Homo sapiens: one gene and its partner. The protein of the gene in region 2 interacts with the protein of the main gene of each other region in a biochemical or structural test. Each region holds a gene or a part of one and is shown on either strand. Other genes may lie near its edges.

Region 1 (3,915 bases), on a different chromosome or scaffold from region 2:
CAATCATCTCCTCAAACCCCCTCCAACCAGAAACCAGCACCCCAACCAAGCACCTCCCACGTCTAACTGCACCCTTTAAAACAAGGTTGGACATTCAGCAGCCTGCCTTCCCCATCCCCATCATTACCTTCCAACTTCAAAACACTGCTTTAAATACCAGAGTCTGCCCAAATCATAATTAACTTGGATCAAATGGTTGAGTGTTGTAACTCTACTGCACAGGACTTGCACCAGAAAAAAAAAAAAAAGTGGGGAATGTGCTAAAGCCAAGCCCTCACTCCTGGCCGTGGGAATCACTAATTCCAGAATGAGGAATCTTTGGCTATGGAGGGGGGAAGGGCGGATGTCAACTTCGCAGCAGGAGGTAGGAGGTGGGGAGGGCTGCGTCATCTCGTCCACTTTCTGCTCCAGTTTTCCTGCTCCATTCTCAGCCTCAACTCAGAGAGGACTCCGTGCAGGAGGCCCCGTCCCCACCTGGCTCCGGAGCCGAGCCGCCCGGCAGCCGTGGCCAGCCCACTTGCTTGGGTTCGGGTACCAGAGAGAGGCTGGCTCCATTCAGTCCACAGCCTCCCCGAGAAGACGCAGCCCAGCCAGCGACGCCGGGTCCAGCTACAGGACGAGCGAGAAACGTATTCATCCACGGCGAGAGAGGAGGGTTAGGGACTTTATTTCGGAGCCCACCAGTTCGCTGAAGTCATCTTGGTGGGTCCAGAGCGGGCGCTGTACCAAGGAGAGCGCACCTAGTCTGTTCCCCGGACAGCGAGAATGTCAGTGACCAATTTAAAAGGAAACTCCGCAGGATCGCTAAGAACCCCTACCCGCATCCAACACACACACACACACACACACACACACACACACTCTCCAACACTCAGAAAATTAATAATAATAATAATAATAATAATAATAATAATTCTTCCAGACCTGCGGGCCCAGCGATCTCGGGGAAAGCTATGTGTGCAAGACTTAGCCCTCCCCGCTTCAGGAGCCCTGCAAGCCGGCCTGCCGAGGCTACCGAAGCGCTTCCTGTGTTCAGCAGGTCTTTTCGCTCTCTCCCTCTAGTCTGCAGATTGCTGTCCCTATAGCGCGTAAGAGCCTAGGCGAGCCGGGACCAGACTAGTAAGTTACCGGCGTACGGCAGCGAGCGCACACCTTGCTTATGTAGCCAATGTTCTTTTTCGGGGCGGATGCCAGGCGCGCGGAGAGCCGGGCGTCCCCAGGAGGCGGATCCTCCCGGAGACTCAGACCCTGACTCCTACACCCCTTCCAGGGAGAAGAAGGGATCCCTTTCAGGAGCGAGCAGGGACCTTTCAGCTTACTGTGAAGCCCCTTCCCTGCTCCCCGCTCCCGCGATGTGGATGCGCCATTGCCCACTTTGGGAGGCAGTAAAATCTACATTCTAACTTGGGCGCCCTTGCCGCTTTTCCTGCGCGCATCGATGCGACGAAAGACCACCTCAACTTCAGGACAGAGTGAGGCGCAAGGGTCCCCTAGCCCCGCGCCCCCAGACCCGATCGCTTCCTACCTGCTTGGCTCAGCCTCGGGTCCCAGCAGAGCAGCAGTGCCAGCAGCAGCGCGCCCCGAGCTCCGCTCCGGGCCCCCATGCTCCCGCGGCCTGGTTCGGGCGCCTCTCCCCCAGGGCTGTCTCCCTGGCCCCAGTCTCGCCGCCGCCGTCTCCGCCGCCGCCGCCTCCTCCTCGCCGTCCTCCCCGGCGCCCGGCAGCGCCAGCCCGTGCCTTCCGTGGGGGCAGCGGAAGCCACGCTGCGCGGAGGGCCGCCTGGCACTCGGAGCGCGGTGGGTGCCTGGCGCCGGCTCTCGAACGAGGCTCCGGCGCGCCCCTCTGGCTCCGGGTCTCTGAGCGCTCGCCTGGCTCCGGCGCTGTGCCTCCGAAGTTGCGCGACCGCTCAGTGGCGCTCGCAGCGGCGGCGCCGCGCAGTCCCAGCCCCAGTGCGCGCCTCTCGGAGCCCCGCGGCTGCGTGCGGCTCCGGCGCCCTAGCCGGCCCCAGCCGCCTGCCACAATGCCGAGCGCCGCCGCTCGCTCGCCGGAGTGAGTTCGCCAACCGAGGGGACCGCGCGCGGCCGGGGCGGGGCCTGGGCGACCGAGGGCGGAGCCGACAGGGGGACCTTGAGGGGGGATCCGACGGCCATCTGGGCGCGGCCGCGGCAGAGCTGGGGGACCCGGGGGGAGGGTCCTCGCGAGACGCTGGGCGCAGCGTTTTGAAAAACCCGGCCGCTGGAGAATGGCTGGACGTGGAGGCGGCCCAATTTTCGCTCCCCCAAATTAAGGAAATCTGGCTTTGCGCCTTCATTTGGCTTGGCCATGTCAGCTTTCTCCTCTGATTAAACATAGGACTCTCACTTTTGGCTCCCCTGTCTGTAGTATGCGCTCTGCCTTCCACATGTGGGGGTCTTTCCAAAAAAAAGGCTCCCAAAATGAGAACACCCAAGTCCTGGTTACGCGGGGGCTTACAGCGATATGAAGCTGGGTATAGATTAGGATCATCCTGGCTGGCTCTGCTTGTCTGTATGATCTCCGGCAGAACTGTTAACCAGACCCCTGGAAACCCCTCCAGCACTCTGATCCTGCGTTGTTGTAAACTAGCCTCCTACCTGACAGTGGGACAGCCATTTTTGGCTCAGTGTAAACTTGGACTCTGCCCCTTATTTACTGTGTGACCTTGAACAAGTTACTTAACAATTCTATTGCTCCCTTCATCATCATCTGTAAAATGGAGGAAAAGGATAACTATTTCATAAGGGGGTATAGAATTAAATTTTAAAACTTGTGTGGAAATTGCAGTGCAAGTGTCAATAATCTCTTTCCAAGATTCTCCCCTCCCAGCCAGTCTGATTCCAGGGGGAAAGTCCTGACCACCCAAAGGTGGTCCAAGGAGCACGTGGGGACAGGTGAGGTTTGAAGGATGGGCAGTGTCTTGGGATTGAAACCCAGAGAGATCAGAACGAGCGGATCAGCTAACATAGGCAAAGACCTTCCCTGTGCCAGGCACAGGGCTAAGCACTCTGTATGCATCATGTCAGTTAATTCTCACAACCCTCTGAAGTAAGCACCATTTACATCCCATTTTACAGATGAAGGACCTGAGGCACAGAGGTGTAAAGCCACCTGCCGGAGATCACACTGCTTGGAGTGACTGAGTGACTGAGCAAAGGGGATGGGGGAGATGGGATTGGAAAGAAACCCTCTAAACGGGGGAGCCTCACTTGAACACCTTCCCTGGGGCTGGATTGGGCTGTGCGAAGGGGACTGTCCTAGCTGTTTCCCCAGAGGTGAGGTGAAGGCAGGACTAGTACCCTCTCCACACACACTCCCCTCACAAGCCGGGGTCTTGGAGTATCTAGGGGAGGTCGTGCATGCCATCAGCACATCTCCCTAACCCTCTCTGACTGGGCACCCAGCATCAGGAGGGTGGCAACAGGTGGACTGGGACTCCCTGGGGGAAGAACTTCCATCAATTGAGAAAGGCTGCTGTGGGCAAAGGTAGGTTGCTTAGCTTGGCCTCTGACAGCCCTAGCAAGGGCAGTGGATGAGACAGTCAACAGCTCAGCACACCCAAACCAACTCCACCTTGCAAATACACATGCACACACACAACTACCCACCCATACACACCTGCAAAGGTACACACACGAAAACATACAACAAAGACAACAGGTGCAATGTTTCACCTCCCATAAACATCACACCTACAAATAGGCACCCGACTCCAGAGACACCCACATACCAAAGATGTATGCCTAAAAAAAGCAAACACACAGGCGCACACAACTAAAAACACAAATAGGCAGATGACTCCCAAGACAAATAGATATTTGGATACTTAACTACTGCCAGGAAACACATACAGGCACGCCTGTGCCAAGACCCACATCTGACGGTCATCCCCTGGATGCAGG
Region 2 (3,915 bases):
TTTTATGCAGTCAGAGATAAATGAAAGGCATTGCTACAGCTGAAGGACTTTTCTAGTGGCTTTATTTATGTTGTTTCTGGATAATAAAATAACATAGATGAGCATTTTAGACAGATTTATTAATAGACAGATTTATTAAGAATGTTTAAAATAGCCTTATTATTAAAACCATTAGAGATTTTGGACTAAAAATTGAAAAAAAAATCAATTTTTTTTCTTTTAAATTCTAAATAAAATAATAAAAACAAACCCCCCAGATGTTGAGAAGACATGGATGGGCCTGTTGCACTCTTTACCTATATGCAACCATTTTGTTTCAGACCTAATTCAGTGAACAAAATTTTTTGAGAAGATACATTTAACTACTTTTTCAAGCTTTGTAGTATAAATGCATTTCTTCCAATATAAGATTTTCCTATTATAAGTTGCAAAGAATGGATCCTCTGCAAAACCCACTTGATAAGGGCTCTACTCATTTATTTTTCTTTCCTGCTACCCCAAACTCACTGCATACATCAGGCATAGCTTCCAGGGTGAGCTTTGTTAGTTTTTCTGAGTAGACTTAGCCATTTACTATGCTAGTCACATACTTCACTTGCCTAAGCAATGGATTTTGGTGTTCTATTGAAGAGGGAATATGGTTTGGAAGAGTGTCTCCCCCTCCTCTGAGTTCAATTTACTAGTTGAGATTTGCAAGCCTGAAATGCTTGAAGCAGCTCAGGCACGATAGCAGTGCAAGCTTTAAAATCTAGGTGTAGCTGTTAATCCTTTACAGAGGCACATAAGTCTCCAGGAGTAGCTCGGCTAGCTGTGAGCAAGATGTATGCTTTTCATGTACTGCGTACTCATGGGCTGAGGGATTATTGATTTTCTTTCACAGTTGTAAAAACAGCAATTGGTGATCATCCCACACGTACAGTACACACCAAGTTGCTTTCCTATCTGTGAAGAATCTCCTTGTATTCTTTAATATTTAACATTGAACTTTCCAACTTGCTGTTTTCCATAAGGCTCTTTTCACATAGCAATTACTCAAGACAGAAAATAGCCACTTACTATCTTTTATAAATGAAAGAAGGTTCTAAGAAACTTCTTACATTCAGCCATGATAGTGAAATTTTTCATTGCTGGCTTGCACGCACATATATTGCTTGTTGTGGTGACAGAGCAAACGTTCCTATTTGGATTTCTCATAGTATCAAGTCGTTTCTTTCTAGAGAGTAAAACCAAGCAAACTTTCTGGGACAATCATAAGAAAAAACATGGAAAACACTTACCAGGAAGACGAGAAAAAGCAATCCTATATACACTGCCGCTATAGCTGTAATTCCATTGACAGTGAATTGGAGTAATAGCCCTCCCCCGTCTCCCAAGCTCTGCGTCCAGTCCACACAAAGCCCACGGCAGCTGCAGGCTGAGCTTGTCCTGCTTCAGATCACTCCTACACTGAGGAGTGAGCGAGGGAGAGCATTCCAGTTTACTGCACACAGCCCACCTCCAAGTCTGAAGTTTAAAGCTTCACCTCGCAGTGGCTGAAGAAGGGGGTGATGTCATAGATGGGCAGGACTTAGCCAAGATCTTGTTCAGTGAGGTAACTGGATAATCAGACAGATGAGCTTTGCAAACGCTAGAGGGGGCGAGAGCAGCCAAAATGAAGCATCAGCCTGCCAAAGCTAGGATGCCATTTGGTTTGTAGGCAGCCCTTTGGAATCTCAACATTTTCTAAAGTTTACTACAAGGCAGTGGTAGCATACTTATGTATTTTTTTTAAAAAGCATGTTAGAAAGATATTTTTAAGATCACAATAGAAAAAGACAGGCTTTGTCTTATTTTTAAACCATCTGTATTGAAAAGAAGTTAACCAAAATCAAATTAGTTTTATTATTCACTAGCTAAAATAATGTTATAATTGTGGAAGATGTATGCCAGTAATCCCAACTGTGAATGTTTATTCAACATATGAATAAACAGCAGATTCAAATATATACATCAGGGCTGGGTGTGGTGGCTCACGCCTCTAATTCCGGCACTTTGGGAGGCCGAGGTGGGAGGATCACCTGAGGTCAGGAGTTCGAGACCAGCCTGACCAACATGTAGAAAAAATTAGCTGGGCGCCCGTAATCCCAGCTGTTTGGGAGGCTGAGGCAGGAGAATCACTTGAACCCGGGAGGCAGAGGTTGCAGTGAGCCAAGATTGCACCATTGCACTCCAGCCTGGGCAACAAGAACGAAACTCCATCTCCAATATATGTATATATATACACGTGTCACTGATTCATTTAGTTATGGGAAGGGCAATAGGAATGCCAAAAGATTTTTTTAAATGGTATTAAATGGTCTGTTCTTTTGGAGGCGAAGAAGTTACTGTTCTCTATGTTTTAGAAAATGAAAGTATGTTTTATGTACTTCTGCTACGTGTTTATATTATTTAAAATGGATTATTTATATTTAACGATCCCCCAATAAAATGTTTTTAAAAAATTTAATAGAATATTTTCCTTTCTAAATGTTTTTGCTGATCTGAGCATGGGTTTAGATATAAACATCTTAAGAAAAAAATCTTTCAGGGTGGTTTGCCTGGATTGAAATTATTTTAGTTTAATTTAGGTACATGAATAAACACTGGACAATTGTAAGACGTGGAGATTATAAATTTCTATGCCTAATTAACAGAATTATACTTGTATTTTTAATTATGATTTTTGTAGACTGGTTTCTGCTATTTGGTCAACAATTGCTTTGTGCCCGTAAGTTTTCCATCAAATAAGTGTATTTCACTTGTTCATGTTGGTGGTAAGAACTTAGCTTTTATATTTACCTGGAGGACCGTTGTCTTAAACTAATATCTTTATTTGCTCTATTCTTAGAGGTGCATGACCTTCTCCTTTGTCCTTTCTCAATTTTTCCCTGCATGTTTATTTCTGAAGAAGGCCAGCTAATAGTCTTTCCCAGGACTATTTGATTGTGGTCTCTTCATTAGCTTCATTTAGTTTATCTATTTATATATTTGTTTGATAACAGTTTGACCTGAGTTCCCTTCCAAGAATGGGTGATATCAAAGTAGGTGAACCCTTGATAAGAAATGTATTGACCCTATTGTTCTATGATTGCACTTTTGTGGGCCTCAGAGGACAGACCCATTAAATCTAGGAGTTTTAGATTCTAATGTCCATTGAAAAGCCAATTTCTTTGAACTGCTAGGTAGTACAATTAAACTGATATGCAGCAGCTGAATTTTGGGAGGAAAGGGAGGTGGATATTTTTCTGTTACTATGAAACAAAGACATGGATTAAATTATTTTATTAAATAATTATTTCTAGAAGCCATTTTCAGATAGGAGTTGGTTCTGTTTAAAAAAGAAAATTTTTGCCTGGTCAAATTCCTGTGGGTTTATAGCCATATTTAATCAGTTTCGTCTTCATTCAGGCAGGCCTTAAACAGAAAAGAAAAATCAATTGGTGAATTGGGTTATAGGTATCAAAAATAAATTGTACTGGCCTGGGAGTTAGCAGTTTGGAGGTTTCCCTTCTCTGGGCTGCCATTGTTATATGACTTCATATTTGTTGCCCTAGGCTTTGGTTTCATCACTTGACAAATAAAGGCAGCAAGGATTTATTAAATGCCAATTATTTTTTGTTGCTTTTTTTCCCCTTTTAAGCTATGGATTAAAATATGGGAAAAGAAAAGAAATTGTGAAAATATATTCTATACTGGGGTACTGACTTTGGGGGCAAACTCTTAGTAGAATCTGTGGCCTCCTATTCTGTCCAAAAATATATACTCTTTTGCTGCATACATAGTTTTTCACTTCCCGCTCTTATCAGCTACCTGAAATGCTACTAGTTGAAGGTGAATTTATAATAATGTGTGCCCCCTTTGAAATAGTATGTACAATCTCTGGAAACATGAGGTTAT

The links.
Region 1: the proteins of FLRT3 (region 2) and UNC5B form a complex in vitro, tested with the Homo sapiens proteins (one study listed by BioGRID).

The regions. Positions count from the first base shown.
Region 1 is NC_000010.11:71,210,675-71,214,589, reverse strand, and holds the start of UNC5B (netrin receptor UNC5B isoform 1 precursor), read right to left. Parts: upstream 2,021-3,915; 5' UTR 1,605-2,020; coding exon 1,526-1,604; intron 1-1,525. UniProt on the Homo sapiens protein: Receptor for netrin required for axon guidance. Mediates axon repulsion of neuronal growth cones in the developing nervous system upon ligand binding.
Region 2 is NC_000020.11:14,336,127-14,340,041, forward strand, and holds the start of FLRT3 (leucine-rich repeat transmembrane protein FLRT3 precursor), read right to left. Parts: upstream 1,487-3,915; 5' UTR 1,278-1,486; intron 1-1,277. UniProt on the Homo sapiens protein: Functions in cell-cell adhesion, cell migration and axon guidance, exerting an attractive or repulsive role depending on its interaction partners. Plays a role in the spatial organization of brain neurons. Plays a role in vascular development in the retina.